2 separate regions of the Homo sapiens genome follow, and region 1 is reported to be linked to region 2. Evidence: microRNA targets listed by miRTarBase, many of them from high-throughput screens and not tested one by one. Region 2 holds a microRNA gene; the other region holds the end of a gene's coding sequence.
The links. The annotated mature microRNA hsa-miR-3175 reads CGGGGAGAGAACGCAGUGACGU and lies in region 2 at 3,031-3,052, opposite strand. An mRNA with a match to its seed (bases 2 to 7 or 8) in the 3' UTR can be bound and repressed. Matches are read on the target gene's strand: a 7mer-m8 pairs with bases 2 to 8, a 7mer-A1 pairs with bases 2 to 7 and ends in A, and an 8mer does both.

Region 1 (4,000 bases), not on the chromosome of region 2:
GCACAAGGAACAGCCCTATAGAAGAAAGAAGGCCATTTCCCAGCAGAGCTAATAGAAAGGGGGATCATATCATGCGAGGGCTCTTGTCACTTTGACAAGCTTGTCATGGAAATAATATGACATGGTGATTTGCAAAAGAGGACTGTGAAAAATTAGACAACGGATCAGCATTCACCATGGGACATGTCAAGGTACACGTCAAACATTTCTATGATGGAAATATTGGCCAGGCGCGATGGCCCACACCTGTAATCCCAGCACTTTGAGAGGCTGAGGTGGGTGGATCACAAGGTCAGGAGTTCGAGACCAGCCTGTCCAACATGCTGAAACCCCATCTCTACTAAAAGTACAAAAATTAGCCGGGCGTGGTGGCAAGCACCTGTAATCCCAGCTACTTGGGAGGCTGAGGCATGAGAATTGTCTGAACCCAGGAGGCAGAGGTTGCAGTGAGCTAAGATCACGCCACTGCACTCCAGCCTGGGAGACTCCATCTTGGAAAAAAAAAAAAAAAGAAATATTAATAACAGTGATAGTTCCTTTATAAATTGGTTTTAATTATATAATTTCTGTGTGACTCAGTTTACTGAGTGTTAAGTTTTGTAAGTGTTCAATTCTTTTAAAATCACTCTGGACACTAAAATGTTCACTGTGATTATATCTGAGTCATACATAAGGGGTTTTTTTTAAAATAAACTTTTTAATTGAGGTTTTCTCATTAAACATATTTTCAATGTCTCTTCAATGAAAAAGGATTTCTTGTGAAAAATAATAATAATAATAACAGACGCTTCAAAACAGTGTAGGCCTGGCCAGGCATGGTGGCTCACGCCTGCAGTTCCAGCACTTTGGGAGGCTGAGGTGGGTGGATCACCTGAGGTCAGGAGTTCGAGACCAGCCTAGCCAAGATGGTGAAACCCCATCTTTACTAAAAATGGAAAAATTAGCCAGGCGCCATGGTGGCAGGTGCCTATAGTCCCAGCTACTCGGGAAGCTGAGGCAGGAGAATTGTTTGAACCCAGGAGGCAGAGGCTGCAGTGAGCTGAAATCATGTCACTGCACTCCAGCCTAGGTGATGGAGTGAGACCCTGTCTCAAAAAAAAAAAAAGAAAGAAAGAAAGAAAAAAACAGTGTAGACCTCCTAAACAAAATGCCAACAAATCAAATTTTATGATACATAAAAAAATAACACATCACAGCAAAGTGGAGTTTATTCTAAGAATGCAAGGTGACTTAGCATTCAAAAACCAATCTATGGCTGGGTGCAGTGGCTCACACCTGTAATCTCAGCACTTTGGGAGGCCGAGGTAGGAGGATCACTTGAGGTCAAGAGTTCCAGACCAGCCTGGGCAACATAGTGAGACTCTATCTCTACACTACAGAAAAAAAACAAAACAAAACAAACAAACAAAAAAAACACTTTTTTTTTTAAATTAGCCAGATATGGTGGCAAATGTCTGTAGTCCCAGCTACTTGGAAAGCTGAGGGCTGAGGTGGGAGGCTCGTCTGAGTCTGGGAGGTTGAGGCTGCAGTGAGCCATGACCTGGTGGCTGGGTAACAGAGTGAGACCCAGTCGCAGAAAAAAAAAAGAAAGAAAAAGAAAAAGTGATGGATATCACTTCCAAGATTATGCTATAAAAAGACACTGGCTTTCATCCTGGCTCTCTTTCTCTCCTTCTCTCTTGGAAAGCTCTGAGGGAAGCCGGCAGCCATATTGTGAGGCAGCCCTGTGCAGGTGTCTACATGGCAAGGGAACAAGGCTGCCAAACCACATGAGTGAGCTTGGAAGCAGGTCATCACCAGCCAAACCTTCAGATGAGACCACAGCCCTGGCCAATGGCTGACAAGTATCCCAATTTTCCCGGGACTGAGAAGTTTCCTAGAACAGGGAACTTGCACTGCTAAATCCAGGATAGACCTGGGCAAACCCTATTGACAGCTGAACTGCATACTCCTGAGAGTCCTTGAGCCAGAGGCACCCAGCTTAACTGTGCCAAATTCCTAATGTTTGTTCTTAAGCTGCTGTTTGTGGTAATGTAATATGTAGCAATGGATAACTAACCTAGCACATCACAAATGAGCACATTAAAATGGGTGATACACTTATAACAAGGCATTCAACGTCACTGCTTATCAGAGAAATGCAAAGTAAACTTAGAACAAGTTATTACTCCATACTCACAAAAATGGCTAAAATTTGAAAAGACAGAAAATACCCAGTGTTGGCAAGGATGTGGAGCAACTGGAACTCTCATACACTACTAGTGGGACCGCAAAACAGCACAACCACTTTGGAAACTGTTTTCTAGTAACTACCAAAGCTAAATATTACACATATCCTATGTCCCAGCAATTCTACCCTTACATATACACCAACAGCAGGCATCCACTGGTTCACCAGGACGTGGACAAGAACGCTGATCTCTGGACAATACCTTGGACGTTATTCACACCCACTCCCCGCAGACTACATTGAACACTCCACAAAGAAGAGGCAGGAAAAAAGGGGAGAAGGGAGGAGAGGAGAAGGAAAGAAGGGAGACAGCTCTCTACCAGCAACAGGGGCCTCTGCCAGGCGTGCTATCATTCTGTGACAGCTAGGAGCTTAGTTAGGTCTTCAACCGGCTGCTCAGAGAGGGGATAAGAAATTGCTCTCCCAGGTCCCTGGCCCTGGTTGGGAACTAATTTTCAAAGTGTCTTCCACCCAGGACAATTCTTTTCTTTTTTTTTTTTTCTTTTCTTTTTTTTTTTTTTTTTGAGATGGAGTCTCACTCTGTTACCCAGGCTGGAGTGCAGTGGCACGATCTCGGCTCACTGCAATCTCCACCTCCTGGGTTCAAGCGGTTCTCCTGCCTCAGCCTCCCAAGTAGCTGAGACTAGGTGCGCACCACCACGCCCGCCTGATTTTTGTATTTTTAGTAGAGACGGGGTTTCACCATGTTGGTCAGGCTGGTCTTGAACTCCTGACCTGGTGATCCGCCTGCTTCAGCTTCCCAAAGTGCTGGGATTACAGGCGTGAGCCACCGCGCCCAGAAAAATTCTGTTCAAGCAAACTCGCAGGCTGATCTGGGTCTATAAAAATGATCAAAACAGAGGAGCTCTGACCAATTTGAAGGCCCCCCTTCCAGCCTCCTCCTCCCAGCTATGTCCCTGCTAGGCTGACCACAACACCCCCAGAGACCCAGGTAATTACCTGCCAACCGTAGGTGTCCTGCTGCTGGGTTTTCACCCCTGACCCATCCCAGACCCACCCCAGGCCCCGAGTCTGCACTCACCCAGCTCCAGCCTGGGACTATACCAGCCCGTCGTAGAGGGACAGCGCCTGCACAATGGACGGGTCTGCCTTGGAACCCTCCTGGAACTCCTGCAGGGTCAGCTTCCCGTCGGCATTCTGTGAGCAGAGAGAGGCGGCTGAGGGTGCAGGGCCTCCCAGGAGAGGGCTCTAGACAAGCCCAGCCCAGGGCCGGTCCCAAGAGCCCTTCCAAGGTTAGATCAGGAGGGAGGCAACGTGGCTCAGGGCCTACAAGCAGCCAGCACCAGACAGACCTCGGCACTCATGGCAGGGTGGCCTTGGGCCGTGGCCCACCTCTCTGGGCATGTTTCTTCACCTGGGGATGGAGGGTAATTACCTGGCTTCCTCCAGGCACTCGGGTGACAGCTCTGTGCTTGACCAACTGGAAGTGCCCTGTAACTCCACACGTGTCATGGTTAATGCTATTAAACCCCATCAATGTGAGTAACTGACAAGGCTGAGAGCCTCGTGCAGTTCTCTGGGGTCACTCTTGGAAGGGCATTTAAACTGCTCCTGGAGCAGCCCACACTGGACCCTGGGAGACCCGGCAGGGGGCTGGACATGGCTCAGAAAGAGGAATTTTAGTGGGTCTCTCGGGGAGGGGATGTTTGGGCCAGAATCCCTTCCCCGGAGCATCTCTCAAGGAAGCCGGCGGACCACAAGGAAAAGGCCACGGAGAGCACCTACTCGATCTCGGGTATCCAGAGAGGG
Region 2 (4,152 bases):
TACAATCCTGCCTTAGCCGGATGCTTCTGAAACATTCTCTCCTTCAAGATCAGTGATCACATTTTCCCCAAACTACAGGGACTCAGTAATGAGAACTGAAATACTTTTCAGTATGATATCCAGTCCAGAACATGTTGAAATACCAAACAAGAAGACCCATAACCAAACATATTAACAATAAAATGCTAAATTATGTAGCATGAATGGCTACCACATATCTATGTCCTCCATCATTTATTTCAAAAAGAAAAGCCTTGTCCCTCACTTCATAATCAGGGCTCAAATATATTCAGTATATAGGAGCTTTTTTTAAAAAATGTCTCTCCCCCTAGACTTGCTTTATCAATTAAAGATTCCATTGATTACAGAAAAGGGTCATAAGACAAATGTGAGTAATGTGTTCCAGCATTGTGCTGAATTACTGATCACAAAATAAAAATACAATCCAGCCTGGACATTGGATGACTAAGTTTTGTTACTCAGGCTTTATACTGATAACCCTAAAGTTCCAAAACAAGTTGTGAATGGCAGCTTTGCAAAGGTATACATGTGAACTCAACGCTTAGTCAAGCTGAAGTGCAGGAGGGAGTTACTCAGCTGTGACACACCCAGTGTAACCAAGCCACAAAGTTACTTTCACCTGTACACAAAATACTCTTAGAGGAATTTTTTTTTAAGTTTCTTTGTTCAAGTGACACCATATCAAGAAAGCCAAGTTCTTCAAGGAAGCAAAGTTCTAAGGTTACCAAGAAGCAGCTAAAAACTAAAGGATCTTAAAAAAAAAAAAAAAAAAAAGATGGCTCATAGCAAGAAAAAATTTAATGGCTGACACAGAGCAGTCACTCAATTTTTATACCAGAAACAAACTTAGTGTATCAAATTTTATGGGAGAAATGATAGGAGTTTGGAAATACCAGGTGGTCTCAGGAGGTCTCTCATAACTGTCAGTTGTTTTATTTGGGGGTAAGGGAGAGTAAACTAATGATAAAATCTGTGAGTTTTAGTTAAAATTCAAATAAACTTCCAGATTCACTCCTCAAGCAATAACTTGCTACAACTGTCACAACCAAAAGTCTTTATCAAAAATATTATTTGCCCACCTTCCTCTGCTGACTTAATCTTTACAAAGATACTAACTCCCTAACGGCCAAATACTAGTTGGAAAGTGCATATTTTAAACGGCAAGGATACAGAGAGAGAGAGAGAAAGAGAGAGAAATCGATCAACACTCTTTTCTTGCTGCTTGATGCTATTCCCCACATCAAAGGGAAAAAAAGTAGAAGGCTCAACAAACATACCTAAGAACACTGGTTCTATAAAAAACTTAATTGGCTGCAAGATTGTCAACAGTTAATAGGTAAATTGTTATATCATGGTATGCATTTTAACTCATAATGGTATTTAGGTTAAAATATCTTAAATAACAGAATAGTTCATATCCTCTTCAAAAATAATTAACTGCAATGTTGACTACTTTGACCCCAGTTTTAGGAATTGAAAGGTATTCAGCAAATACTATTAACACAACTAATTAGAATTCAGTCTCTACACAAAAAGGGAGGTGAGATTATTACTTTCGTTCTTGTGGCAGGTATACTTTAAGTTGGAAGCTACAGTTAAACGTTCATCAAGTTCTATAAACACTTAATTCTCTGTTAGCATTTTATACGCAATATACATTTGAGCATATAATTTTAAAATCAGGTACAAATTATTTGATGAACACTTCTCTGTAACAGAAAAAGCAATTTCAGCTAGTTTTCACAAACTATCCAAATAATTCTTCCCAAAGAACCTAGATTATGAGAACCTACAAAACTCACTATCATAGTGAATTCTAACTTTCACAGACTGTATTCAGAAACTTGACATACGCCCAAGCAAATATCACCTGCACTGAAGGGTCAACATCTCCTTTGAAGTAACACACTTTACTAAAATAACTCTAAACTATGGCTAACTACAGGACAGCCTACTCCAACTGCTAAAAAAACTCTAGTATGGCAGGAAAAAAACTTTGTCCACAGTAGATAAATCCACTGAATTTCTTGCTTGCTTAAATTCAGTATGTGTAATTTAATTATTAAGACATCGTTGCTGAACGATGAAGTTTTAACCAGAAATCCTTGTAAAGGTTTCCAAACAAGGCAAATCAGTGAGCATAAACCCAACCGTTTACCGGGACTCAGAATTCCCGAAATGGAGGCCTAGGGAAGATAATTGCGAAGATTTGGCCAAGTGACCCCACTATCAGCCAAGCTGTCAGTCACCCTGCATTAGCAAGTGCTATTAACACTTAAAAGAGTAGTTTTCTGACATTTACTTACATAGTAATGGTTGCCTAACGCTGTATTCTGCCACTTTTTAATGTTATTGAACGTGAAATTTTCTATTTTCTACTAAACTATCCCACTGTGAATCTTAAATATATAGTACTTAGCACATACTGACCTGAGTTTTTCTCCATCAAATGCCAACTGAGAAAATGTACGGTACCAAGTAAAAACGCATGGGGACAAGTTCAAATAATCTTCCCTTTGTTTATGAGCCATGTATTAAACAGCTGTTAACACCCGTCAAGAGGTTTTCACTAAAATAAAAGTATCCGCCTCTGACACTCAAACGTTTTGGTCAATTGTAACAAAATTAAACCCACTCATCTCTTCACACTGAACGGGGGCGGGGAGAAGGGACGCTAAGGTATGAAAAGGGAAAATGTAAAACTGGGCAAATTTTCTATTTTAAGATTTCCAAATAGTGCCTTTAAAATTTATAAATAGTGCCTGCACTTTTTCTCCAAAAGCAGCCGCTTCTCAAAGAGGATAAACCATTCCCGGAAATGGGCAAAAGAACACACTACAGGGTGCGGACCGCTACAGGCAAGGGCGGACAAGACTGCCAGGAGCAAACGCGTCCAGGAAAGAAGCCGCCCACCGGAAAGTCCCAACTAGAGTTCCCTTCCTTTTCCCCTCGGCGTGCGGCTCCCTGGGTAGGGGGAGGAGAAAGCGCCCGACATGCGCACGCGGCCAGACGTCACTGCGTTCTCTCCCCGCCCCCCAGGGGAGCCGTCTGACGTCACGGGGCGGAGGCTGCCGAAGGCGCCGCCGTTGACCCTGCTGTTACCAGGCGCGCGCACAGCCAATCAGCACCCCGCGCCGGCGCCGGCCGGCCTTTGAACTCGGCACGGCAACTTCCTGCTGTTTGGCGAGTACACAGTGCAATGCAGTATGTCTGTCAGCGCTGCGGCACAAAGGAACAGCCATTTTGTGACTGAGCTGGACCTGCATCAAGATGCCAGGGGCTCAAAGAGCTGCTGCGTGCCCTATCGAACTGCCTTTTATGTCGGCACCAGAGTTCCCCAGAAGAGCAGAGAGGGGGAAGGAAATAGGCTTTGGTATTTCAGATTTCTATTAGTTTAGATTCAGTCTTCTCCAAAATCCCGTTTTTTAATGTATTATCAGCGTCATAAAATGGCTGCCAGTTAAACTGCCTGTTCTAGTACACAAGTAACTGCATTATGCCATTTCTAATCATCCCCAGCCTTTTAGAATATCTGGTAAAGCGCCCCTGAAAATTGTAGGATTTACCCGCACCTCAGGTTATAAAAATAAATCTGGCTCAAAGGCAGACGATTTGGAGATAAATTTAATAAACTCGTTCAATTCTTAAGATAAATTGCTAACGTGGTGCCGTGGAGAACACACTGAACTCTTTGTGTGCACACAGTCCCGTTTTCATTCTTTGATGTTACTTAAGTTATCCCCAAGCTGCAAATTATTCAGATAAAAAGTATGGTATACTTCTCGTATGTCCATCATTAGAACTTTGTTTTAAATACTTAGAAATTTTACAAATATCAATCAAATGTTTTTAAAATCGCGTTTTTTAAAGTTTTTAATTTTCAAAAATCGTGATAAAGTATAACAGACTTTAGCATTAACTTCAAATTAAAATACAAACTTATATAACCACTATTAACTACTGCACTATTTCCAAAAACAGGGTATTACCAGATTTACCTAAACTTGCACTCATTCTTTCCAGATACTAAAGTAATTCTCAGACCAAAGTTTACTTGACCTGCAAACTCATTTCCTCTTCTGTGGCTCAGGCTGCAAAGGTGATTTTCGTAGTATTCCCTAAACACTATAC

Region 1: the mRNA of NCS1 is a reported target of hsa-miR-3175. The part of its 3' UTR that is shown has no 7-base or 8-base seed match.

The regions. Positions count from the first base shown.
Region 1 is chr9:130,225,777-130,229,776 of GRCh38, reverse strand. It overlaps NCS1 (neuronal calcium sensor 1), which reads right to left. Exons shown (of 8, transcript NM_014286.4): 7 at 3,273-3,388. The coding sequence ends at 3,290. Among named protein-coding and RNA genes, the nearest start is that of MIR12126, 14 kb to the left of the region's middle.
Region 2 is chr15:92,903,308-92,907,459 of GRCh38, reverse strand. It overlaps MIR3175 (microRNA 3175), which reads right to left and starts at 3,061; the gene lies at 2,985-3,061. The region is part of intron 2 of CHD2 (chromodomain helicase DNA binding protein 2); the gene reads right to left. RefSeq lists enhancers at 2,768-3,007, 3,288-3,467, 2,329-3,528 and a silencer at 3,168-3,217.